2 separate regions of the Homo sapiens genome follow, and region 2 is linked to region 1. Evidence: fine-mapped expression QTL. Tissue or cell type: aorta. Region 1 holds a variant in brackets; the other region holds the start of a gene. All regions are shown on one strand. Distances are from middle to middle.

Region 1 (5,151 bases):
CCTTTGAGCTAGCTCCTGCCATCAAAACCATAAACTAATCCCGACAATTGAATATTATGAAAAAAATTAACAAACTGGGCTTTAATCAAAATTTTAAACTTTATTTTTTTAGAAGCCTCCTTAAGAAACAAGGAAAAGGTAAGCCACAGACTGGGGTAAAATATTTCCAATAACTACATCTAACAAAAGGTCCATATCTAAGATTTATATTTAATCTATAAAGAAAACTAAGAGGACAAACTCCATTTTTTTAAATGGGGAAAGGTTTTGAACAGATATACAAATGATCAATACGCATTTGAATAAGTGCTCAACGTTATTATTCATCAAGTAAAACCACAATGAGTAGCACTACAAGCTCACCAGAATGGCTAAAATTTAAAAACTGACACCTCCAAATGTTGGCCATGATATGCAGCCACTTGAACTCTTTATTATAGCTCATGGGAGTGTAAAACCATGCAAATACTTTGGAAAAAGACTGAGATGTTTCTCTCAAAAGTAAACACAAGACTGACCTAGAACCAAGCAATTCTACTCCTAAGGCATTTACCCAAGAGAAACAAAAGCCTATGTCTACACAAAACTTGTACATGAATGTTCATAAAGCTTTATCCTAATAGCCTCAAACTAGAAACGACACAAACATCATCAATAGGTGAATAAATAAATGAGATATAATCCCCTTTAAAAGAATTACATGGGCCGGGCATGGTAGCTCATGCCTGTAATCCCAGCACTTTGGGAGGCCGAGGCAGGCAGATCACGAGGTCAGGAGTTCAAGACCAGCCTGGCCAACATGGTGAAACCCCATCTCTACTAAAATACAAAAATTAGCTCAGTGTGGTGGTGCGTGCCTGTAATCCCAGCTTCTCAGGAGGCTGAGGCAGGAGAATTGCTTGAACCCGGGAGGCAGAGGTTGCAGTGAGCCAAGATTGTGCCATTGCACTGCAGCCTGGGCAACAGAATAAGACTCCGTTTCATAATAATAATAATAATAATAATTACATGTTATATTTTTGAAACATCATTAATCAAATGACATCATCACGATTTTTTCCTTTGGAGGAGTAAGGAAGAATCATTATTCATGCACTGAAATATTTTTGTTGTCGCAAATATCCATTATTCCAGATACCGTACTTGGTAATGGTTTAGATATACAATGATGAGCAGATTGGGTATGGCTACTGCCTTCACTCACAATCACATGACAAAATTTCTGAGTTTACAAAGACAAAAGTGTTTATGGACTGTTTATATTTGTGTGTTTGTTAAACAGCAGAGGGGATAGTGATTATTGATCTTGATGTAGCATCTGGAAATAAGTTTCTATTTAAGAATTTGCACTCCACTTAAGTTTGCCTAGGTGAACGTTTTATAGTTTGGGTAGAGAGATGATGGCCACTGAGAAGCTTGGAGCTTTGATGCTAATCTCTGCAGCTTCCTTTAACAAAACTTAGGGTCATTTGATCTTTTTGCGTTTTCATCCCTCCTTCTTTAAAAATAATCCCGATTTTAGGTGTGGGGTGTTAAAGGACCTTTAGCCTGATATAACCACCCACCTTGTATTTCTGACTTTAATAGCACTAGATTGCTTATAATCTGGGCAATTTCTCTGCTTATTTGGCTGCTCACTTCAGCTCACTTCAATTCCTTCTCTTCCTTAAACTGTACATATGTTTTTTTTCCTCCCCCCAGGCTTCCTTTGCTGTTTAACTGTACTTCATACATGCAGGTATCATGTCTTTATGAAGGTTTTCAAATTAAGGAGGGTACCACTCCCCTCTGCCCACCTCTACATACCTCTGTGTGCCTAACTTCATTATATCAATGGATGAAAATCCCACAGCTGAAAATAGGCACTAAAGTACGTCACAATCTGAAGCTGGTCCAACAACATGCTCTAAAGGCTTATAAGTAGTTGCCCAAAAAGTCCCTATCACAATGAAAAACTCCACCTGCTATTTCTAATTCACAAAAACTGACTACTTGAGAGGAGAAGGGAGTCAAAGTCAGATGCCAAATACTTTCCTCAGCAGTACAATCCCTTCCCATGTCCCCTTCCCAAGGACTTCATCACACTCCACCATCCAAGTGAGAAAGGTTTTGAGACATCCATGCACAGAAAGAAGGCATGTATGAAATGAGGGAGATACTGGCAATTCTTGCCCTGGTTGGATGTCTGCTTAGGCAATGGACATGGTTTCTTTCTACTCAAGGGAAAAGAAATCTGGAGAAAGAAGGCACAATCACTTAATTATCACAGTTTAAGCCACTTTACTATTAAATCGCCCAAGAGAGCTGCCTCCCAGCCAAGAGAGACACAGCTGGTGGTTGTGGGGTGGGCCACCAAGAATAGAAGCTGAGGGGGTGGAGGAGGGGGCCGAATGCAAATCTGACTCTGGGGTCAGCTGCTGCTCCCAAGTACCAGTTCTGTATCTCACGAGCTATGTGAGCTTGGGCAAAACACTTAATTTTTCTGAGTCTTAATTTTCTCATCTGTAAAAAGGGATAGTCTAAGTATTGATGTTATAGGATTTTAATGAAGCTTACACAAAATACTAGAAAAAAATATGCTTCACACAGCACTTAGCATGAAATGAAAGCATATTTAATGGTACTAAATATAATAATTGTGTTCTCTGCTTCTAAAACAGACTTTATCCCAGATCTTTATTGGAGTTGGAGTCCTGAACCTTCTTTCCCTCTCCCCTCACCCCTGGCATGCCTCATCCAACCAGTGCCCAGCTTAGTTTCAAGGTCTCGGTCCTTCTTATCCTATTGCTGCATATCTTACTGTAGTTTAATTAGCTATGTCTGCCTGTGTCCACATATCATTAAAGAGCTGAGTTTGGTAGTGCAAACATTCTTATCCTGCTTTCTAGAATACTCTGAATTGTGTGATAAGAAGGTACTCTGGAGACTTGCAACAGCCAGACATTTAG[C/T]AAATCCCAGTGCCCATATTTTGTGAAGAAAACACACACCCTGAGTGTAGCGGTGCTGCAAAACTCATAAGACAGAGCACAGTAAAAATACTAAGAGGCTGAACATACCAATGGAAAATGACTAGGCCATGTATAATAATAGAACTTTGACCTGCAATCTGCAGCAGCAGTCCAGGAAGCCAGGCTGTTCTAAGTCAGACTTGAAGGAAGCCAAATTGCTGTCTCGTTACAATCCAGGAAGCCAAACAACAACCCCTGTAGCATTTGGCCCCAAACAACAACCCCTGTAGCATTTGGCCCCAAACAACAACCCCTGTAGCATTTGGCCCCAAACAACCAGGGCTTGATTAGTACCTGACAGCTTCCCTAATTGTCGTCCCTGCTTACAACAAACCAAAGAAATCCAAATGTGCACCCCTAACCAAATAGGTAGGATGCACTACCTCTTAGCTCACCTACAGCTTCCCTGTGTCAACAGCTTCCAATCAGGGCATACTTGAAGCCTGCCCTTGCTGCCTACTATAAAGTTTTCCCACTCTTCTGCCAACCTTTCAGCCTCTGCCAAATGCGAGTGACAGTGGCTGACTCCTATACTACAGCAAGCTTTGAATAGTCTGCTTGTCCTGATTTGGTCTCTGTTTATTTCCACAATATTTAAGTACAAAATCTTATTTCAGTTTTATCTTAATGAAATTTGGCCACATATTAAGCTTTGGCTATGTGGTATCATGCATAATGGCTGGTCTCACTGTGGGGTACCACAGAGGCTTAAGCTTAACCTTTGGCATCTCGAAGGCACCCAAAAGTGAAACACAGCTGAATAAGAAATATCAAGACCCCAGAGTACCTGCCGGGAAGGAATCAAATATTTAACAAGCTCTAAAAGTGAATGAGGACTTTGCCCTATTCTAACTAGGTTAACTCTAGGAGAAGATGACCTGGCTGATCTGTAAGGTAATTAGCAAATGTCACATTAAAATTAGTTACACAGTCTGATGAACCATTGAGTCCCACTAACATCATCATAAATAGTCAACTCTTTTTCTCTATTTTTATGTTACCAATAAATCCCAAATGTATTGGGAATTACCAAACTTTCTGCAACAATTTTTATTGGCTATTTTTCCCTAATCTCTATATAACATCATTTTAAAAATAATGGAAAGTTAGGCCAATCTATTATTTAATAAATAGAGTATTTGGGCCTATTAAGAAATGTTCAACTTTGTTCAAATGATTACCTCTATTTCTTTTATTTTAAGGCCAAAAGAACTAAGCTGTTTCAGAGGGTTAATTGGTATGAGCGAGGCGGGGAGACGGGAGACCAATCGTACCATCCCATGGAACTTGGAAGAGAATTACTCTTAAACTTTTTTTCAAAGTATATTTTGACAATAATATCCCCAGGCTATAGAGCTAAATTGCTTTGTTCATTTATGAGGATCTGTGTCTCCTCAGTGTCTTTAACTCCCACAGGGGAACAATAAAGCCAGAAATAGTGGTCATTATTAATCCCCACTACAGTGGGGAGTTCAAAATAAGGCCTGCTTGTCTTAGACAATAGTTTCATATATTAAGTTATTTTATATATGTATGTAAAGAGAGAACGAGATTTAAATTTGTTCCATCTGCAGCCTCTTGTGCCTACACAGGGAGCATCAGTGAGTGTAGGTGGCAGCTAACAGCACCTCCCTCTTATTCTTTAGGTCTCAAACTCTGCATGACCATCATTTCCTCCCAGAAGCTAATCTGCCTCCCCCCATCCTCCATCCCCTAACCCCACAAAGTTCTACCTCTCTTTGCCCCTTCCCCTACACATTACATTGTTTCACTTTGGCATTTGTTTAGTATGACTGTCTCTTTAACATTTGTTTCCCTAATAAAACTGTAAGCTCCATCATGGTAAAGACCTAGCACAGTTTTGCTCACTTTTCCACAGTGCCAGGTTCTTAGAAGGGACTCAAATATTTTTTGAGTGAATAAACATATTAGTGCCTGTGGGGTGTGGTTGGAGTGGTAGAAGACTGAGAGAAAGAAAACTAAACTTTTCTACTTCAAAAAGCAAGAACTGAGGAGTTAATACAAGCCAAACAGCAAGGAGGCCCTGGTGCCCAGGTAATGGATTAAAAAAATGGTGGGTGGGCAACATGGCAGTTGGCATGGGGGTGTAATGGAAGCCATGGTGTTAGTTGAAGCCACTTAT
Region 2 (5,151 bases), 200 kb after region 1:
CTCAACTCCTTTTTCCTAATATTTTTGGCTCTCGTTTCTCCTGTTAAGTTTGGTGACTGAAATAATAGTCTTGCCAGCTCTGACATTGTAGGATTTTTTTTCTAACCTCCAAGAATTTTGATACTAAAATTAACCATTGAGGAGTGGCACAGACTTTCCTTTTGCCTAAAGAGGCCAATCCACAGTAGGCTATGGCTTCTCTGTGGCCTCAGCTGTAGCATTTCAGCAACAACCTCTCAATCTGCCATCTGGGAGACCACCCGAGGGGTGGTAGAACATCTCCAAAAAAGTGTACACCCCAAGTAAGCACTAATTTACATTTATGGTGTAGGACAGAACTTCTCTGTTTCTCAAAACCAGTTTGGTTTGAAGATTATCACCCTGTTGACACTAGCTCATTCTGTGAAACTGACAAGCCCACACACCTTTGGTGAAAGAATTTGTTTCCTACCCATTATCTGAGAGCCCATGAGCAGTTTAATGAATATACTGATGGAGGATTCCCTGGCACAAGCTTATCTGAACAAAGGCCAATAATATTCCACCCCATGCAGAATCCTATCAAAGCAATGCATTAATTGATTAAAGCAATTAAAAGAAAGTCTCCACCTCAAATAGGCAACAAATGCCACCAAAACTGATTAAAGAACACTGTCCAGTGACCTCAACCATGCACTGAAAAATCTAGTGAGTGACAACTTTTTAAAGGTCAGTGTGAAACAAGTAATCCTTATGAACATCAAGGCAATTCTTTCACTCTGATGAAGCAGTTAAATAGTGAAGGTCATGGGGCTTTAGCAGCCACATAAAAGAAAGAAGGAAAGCAATTAGACAAAATGGATGCTGTAATCCCACTTTCCAGGCCCCAGAGTCTCGCTGAATACAGAGCTCCTGCTTTACTGTTCAGAACTCTCCCGCTTCACTGTTCAGAAACTGGAAGCAGATTCCAAATGAGAATTCCATAGCTTGATTCCACTCTCACCAAAAGCTGACTGCGTGTTTCTTAGGAATGTCTATAGCCTTGGGAGGTAAAAATAAAATAAAATAAAATCAATGGATGATGCTATGAACTTTACACCCAGTTTGGAATTCCAAAAATATTCCTCCATTGCTCAGGACTGTTGCTGAATCCTACCCAGCCAGGTTTGCTGTACTGCAGGGAATGAATGTCCAGATCTATGGATCGCCAGGGTTTTCCAATCAAGTGGGAATCCAAGGACCAGCATGGACTAGCAGCATTGGCATCACTTGGAAGTGCTTTCAGTATGGAGATTCTCAGAACCCGCCCCAGACCCACTGTATCAGAACCGCAACCACATTAAAATGTGAGAAACACTGACCTACAGGACCCTACAGGGCACTTTTGTTTTGTTTTGTTTTCTGTTTTGTTTTTATCCTTCTTCTAGCCTGAGTTTCCTCAATGGAAAGATGACAGAGTGTACACACAAAACAAACCAAAACTGAAGGAGGGCAGTTGTTGACATGATCATGGGGGTGATGAGTCTTCTCCCAGTTCTAACTTCTGCAGTCAGCATCGCTTCTTTTGTAATCACGGGAAAATAATTTTCAAATGGAGCTAACCCTCTCACAACATTGTACTAATGATCTTTAAAGCGACGGATTTAGAAGCGCTCAGCACCACGCTTGCCACACTGCAGGGCAGACACTTCAGAGGTGTTAGGTGAAGTGGATGGAGCCAGCACGCTGGCCTCTCCCACTCCGACAGCTGGCGAGCAGCTCTTGTCCACCAAAACTTCCCCGGGTAGATTCACCCACCGGTCCTGGAAACCTGCTAAATCCTGAAGGTTCACAGAACCTCTGGTCAGAACTGAAGTTGCAGCCGGAGCTTCCCGCAGGCTCTGTAACTTTCCCTGGAATGAAATAAATAAATAAAGACCGTAAGTGCTGAGATAGCGGGCCCCAAGATATTTTTAGTCCTCTGCAATCAGCCACTAGAGGAAGGGGGAGGGAGAAGGGAGTAAAAAAGTTTTGATCCGTTCGGGAAGGGGCTCGAAGAGAACCCTTGGGAGAAAGCAGTAGCCTCAGCTCCAAACTCAGCGAGCTTTTCTCGGCTGGCGTTTTGTCTCCTATAGCGTAGACTGTAAGAGAACAGAAAGGAGTTTCCCGAGAAGATTCAGGCTGGCGTCCTGGGCTGGCCCGTCCCTTCTGGCGAGCCTCAGTGTCCTCCCACGCGCTTCTGCCTTCCAGCCTCCTCCCTTTTTCGGGGGGCTGGCGGGAGGCATCCAAGGCACGATGTATGTGCGCTCGCGCTCGCGCAAATACGGCCGGAGGAGTCCTGTTCCTCGGGCATTTTCCGAGGAAGTCTGGATCAATTAGGCTCAGTCCGGGGAGAGCCAGCGAGCGCGCGGGCGGCGTAGCCGGCCTGTCTGGGCCGCCTCGTGGGGAGGGAGGGGGCGCCCGGCCGCCCGGCGGCGACCCCGGGGCCTGGCCGCCACCATGGGCTTCGAGCTGGACCGCTTCGACGGCGACGTGGACCCGGACCTGAAGTGCGCGCTGTGCCACAAGGTCCTGGAGGACCCGCTGACCACGCCGTGCGGCCACGTCTTCTGCGCCGGCTGCGTGCTGCCCTGGGTGGTGCAGGAGGGCAGCTGCCCGGCGCGCTGCCGCGGTCGCCTGTCGGCCAAAGAGCTCAACCACGTCCTGCCGCTCAAGCGCCTTATCCTCAAGCTGGACATCAAGTGCGCGTACGCGACGCGCGGCTGCGGCCGGGTGGTCAAGCTGCAGCAGCTGCCGGAGCACCTCGAGCGCTGCGACTTCGCGCCCGCGCGCTGTCGCCACGCGGGTTGCGGCCAGGTGCTGCTGCGGCGCGACGTGGAGGCGCACATGCGCGACGCCTGCGACGCGCGGCCAGTGGGCCGCTGCCAGGAGGGCTGCGGGCTACCCTTGACGCACGGCGAGCAGCGCGCGGGCGGCCACTGCTGCGCGCGAGCGCTGCGGGCGCACAACGGCGCGCTCCAGGCCCGCCTGGGCGCGCTGCACAAGGCGCTCAAGAAGGAGGCGCTGCGCGCTGGGAAGCGCGAGAAGTCGCTGGTGGCCCAGCTGGCCGCGGCGCAGCTTGAGCTGCAGATGACCGCGCTGCGCTACCAGAAGAAATTCACCGAATACAGCGCGCGCCTCGACTCGCTCAGCCGCTGCGTGGCCGCGCCGCCCGGCGGCAAGGTAGGCGCCTGCTGCCCGCCCCGACCTCCAGCCAGGATCCCTGGGGACCCAGGGCCCCGCCCCATCCCTTTGGGTACAGGGATGCCCCGAGCTTCCCGGGAACATCCTTGCTTCCTCCCTCTTCTTCCACTGCTTACCAGCTGTATCACTACTTGCAGGTCGCTGAACCTGCCTGAGGTGGAACACTGTGGTCCTTTATAGTCTAGACGTAACCGGTAAAGTATAGCTGTACAGCTTCAGGGATTCTGGAAGGACGAAAAAGAATTCACAAGCAAGTGTAGGATAAGAATGAAGAATGCAGCTCCAGAGTCAAAACTGCGTTCAAAGGCTTTGCTGCTCAGACCAGCTAGGGGATCTCGGGCAAGTTGCTTACCCTCTAGAGGTCAGAAACCTATAGACTGACACTTAGGAGAGGAGAGATGGACACATTGGGTGAATTGTATCCGTGCATCCTCTAGGATTCCAGAAAAAAAAATAAAGGGAACCCACAGCCAGTGTAGATTAAGTTAAGAAGGATATCAGAAGAGAGGCCTCTGGGGTAAAAGCTGGATGCAAGCGTGGGCTTTGCAGCCAACTAGCTGGCTGACCTTGAGCAAGCTGCTTAACCTCTCTAAAGTTGGAAACTATGGTCCCTAGAGACGTGGTATACAGAGTAAAAACACAGCCAGGCACCCCTGAGGTATTCATCCAGGGATTTCAGAAAGAATTAAAGGAGCACTCTGCCCCCAACAAGTATAAAGTAATAATTAAGTGTGAGTCCTCTGGAGTTAAAACTGTTTTCAAATCTGGGCTTTTTGCTGACCAGCTGGGTGAGCTTCTGGCTTAATTCCCAGATCCCTCAGTTTCCCTCAGTGCGAAAGGTTTTTGTCAGGCTTCAGGGAGAGAGTTTAGTAGAAGGGCCTCGTACTGTGCCTGGCAGAGAGTAAATAAATGCTCAACAAGTGTTACCTAGAATTATTTTTAACATCTCCACCTGAGCGGTCCCCTTGAGCGAGGGTTTACTTTGCTCCAGGCTGGGTGCTGCATTCTTCCCAGTCATTTCCTTTTTAATCAAGTGAGGTTGGTGTGACCCTTCCCACTTAGTAGATGAAAAAACTGAGGCTCATTAAGGGGCAGTTTCATGCCTGGGTCACAGCTTTTGGGTGCAAAGCTGCATGTTGAACCTTTGCGTGCCCATCTTTCCAGCCCACGTTCTATAAACTATCATGTTGCTCCTCAGTGCAACCACAAGGACCATTTATTGAGTGTTTATTAAGTGCCACCAACAATAGGAAGTACTTTACATGCATTACCTATGTTGTCCTTTGAGATGAGGGAACAGACTCAGAGAAGTTATATAACTTGTCCAAAATTAAGTAGTGACTCAGGGAGCAGAGCCGGACTCAGATTCTACCTCAGAGTTCTCAGTTTTGGGGCATATTGGCATTTTGGGCCCCATAACTCTTAGTTGGGAGGGGAGGTACTGTGCTGTGCATTGTAGGATGTTTAGCAGCATTCTTGGCCTCCCTCCCAAGTCGTGACAATCCAAATATTGTCAAGTGTCCTCTGGAGGGGCAAAGTCGCCCAGGTTGAGAACCACTGGTTTCCCTGATTGCAGAAGCCACATTTTCAACAGCTGGGTACTTCTGCCTTCCTGGGGAGGGGCCTGGGCCTGCTGCCACCGCTCTGGTTGCCTGCTCCAGATGGTGTGGCAGAAAGGGGAAAATATTTGCCCGAGGCTCCCCCAAGGGCCTGTGTCTGCTTTGCCTCTCTCTGCCCTCTCCCAGCCCCCTTTCCTTACGTGCACACCAGGCCTGCAAGTTTTCCGACCTGGCCCCCCTTCCTGGCCCCTGGCCTGTCTGTCAGCTGCAGTCTCAGCAGCTGGCCAGCTCTGGGCGAAGGGCAAATATTTACAGCTCCACAGCTTGCCCAGGACCTCACAGGCACACAAAAGACTGGTGTGAGCCTTCGAATCACCAAAACAGAGGGCAA

The links. PIP is the estimated chance that this variant, and not a neighbour inherited with it, causes the effect.
Region 2: it holds the start of PDZRN3, and the variant in region 1 is fine-mapped to the expression of PDZRN3 in aorta (GTEx, PIP 0.98).

Annotation. Positions count from the first base shown.
Region 1 is chr3:73,825,747-73,830,897 of GRCh38, reverse strand. All of the region lies in intron 2 of LINC02005 (long intergenic non-protein coding RNA 2005), which reads right to left. Among named protein-coding and RNA genes, the nearest start is that of LINC02005, 19 kb to the right of the region's middle. The variant C/T (reference allele first, on the strand shown) is at 2,949.
Region 2 is chr3:73,622,132-73,627,282 of GRCh38, reverse strand. PDZRN3 (PDZ domain containing ring finger 3) reads left to right here and starts at 2,342. Exons shown (of 10, transcript NM_015009.3): 1 at 2,342-3,180. The coding sequence starts at 2,458. PDZRN3-AS1 (PDZRN3 antisense RNA 1) reads right to left here and starts at 3,715. Exons shown (of 2, transcript NR_046681.1): 1 at 3,318-3,715; 2 at 1-1,871. RefSeq lists an enhancer at 4,409-4,923.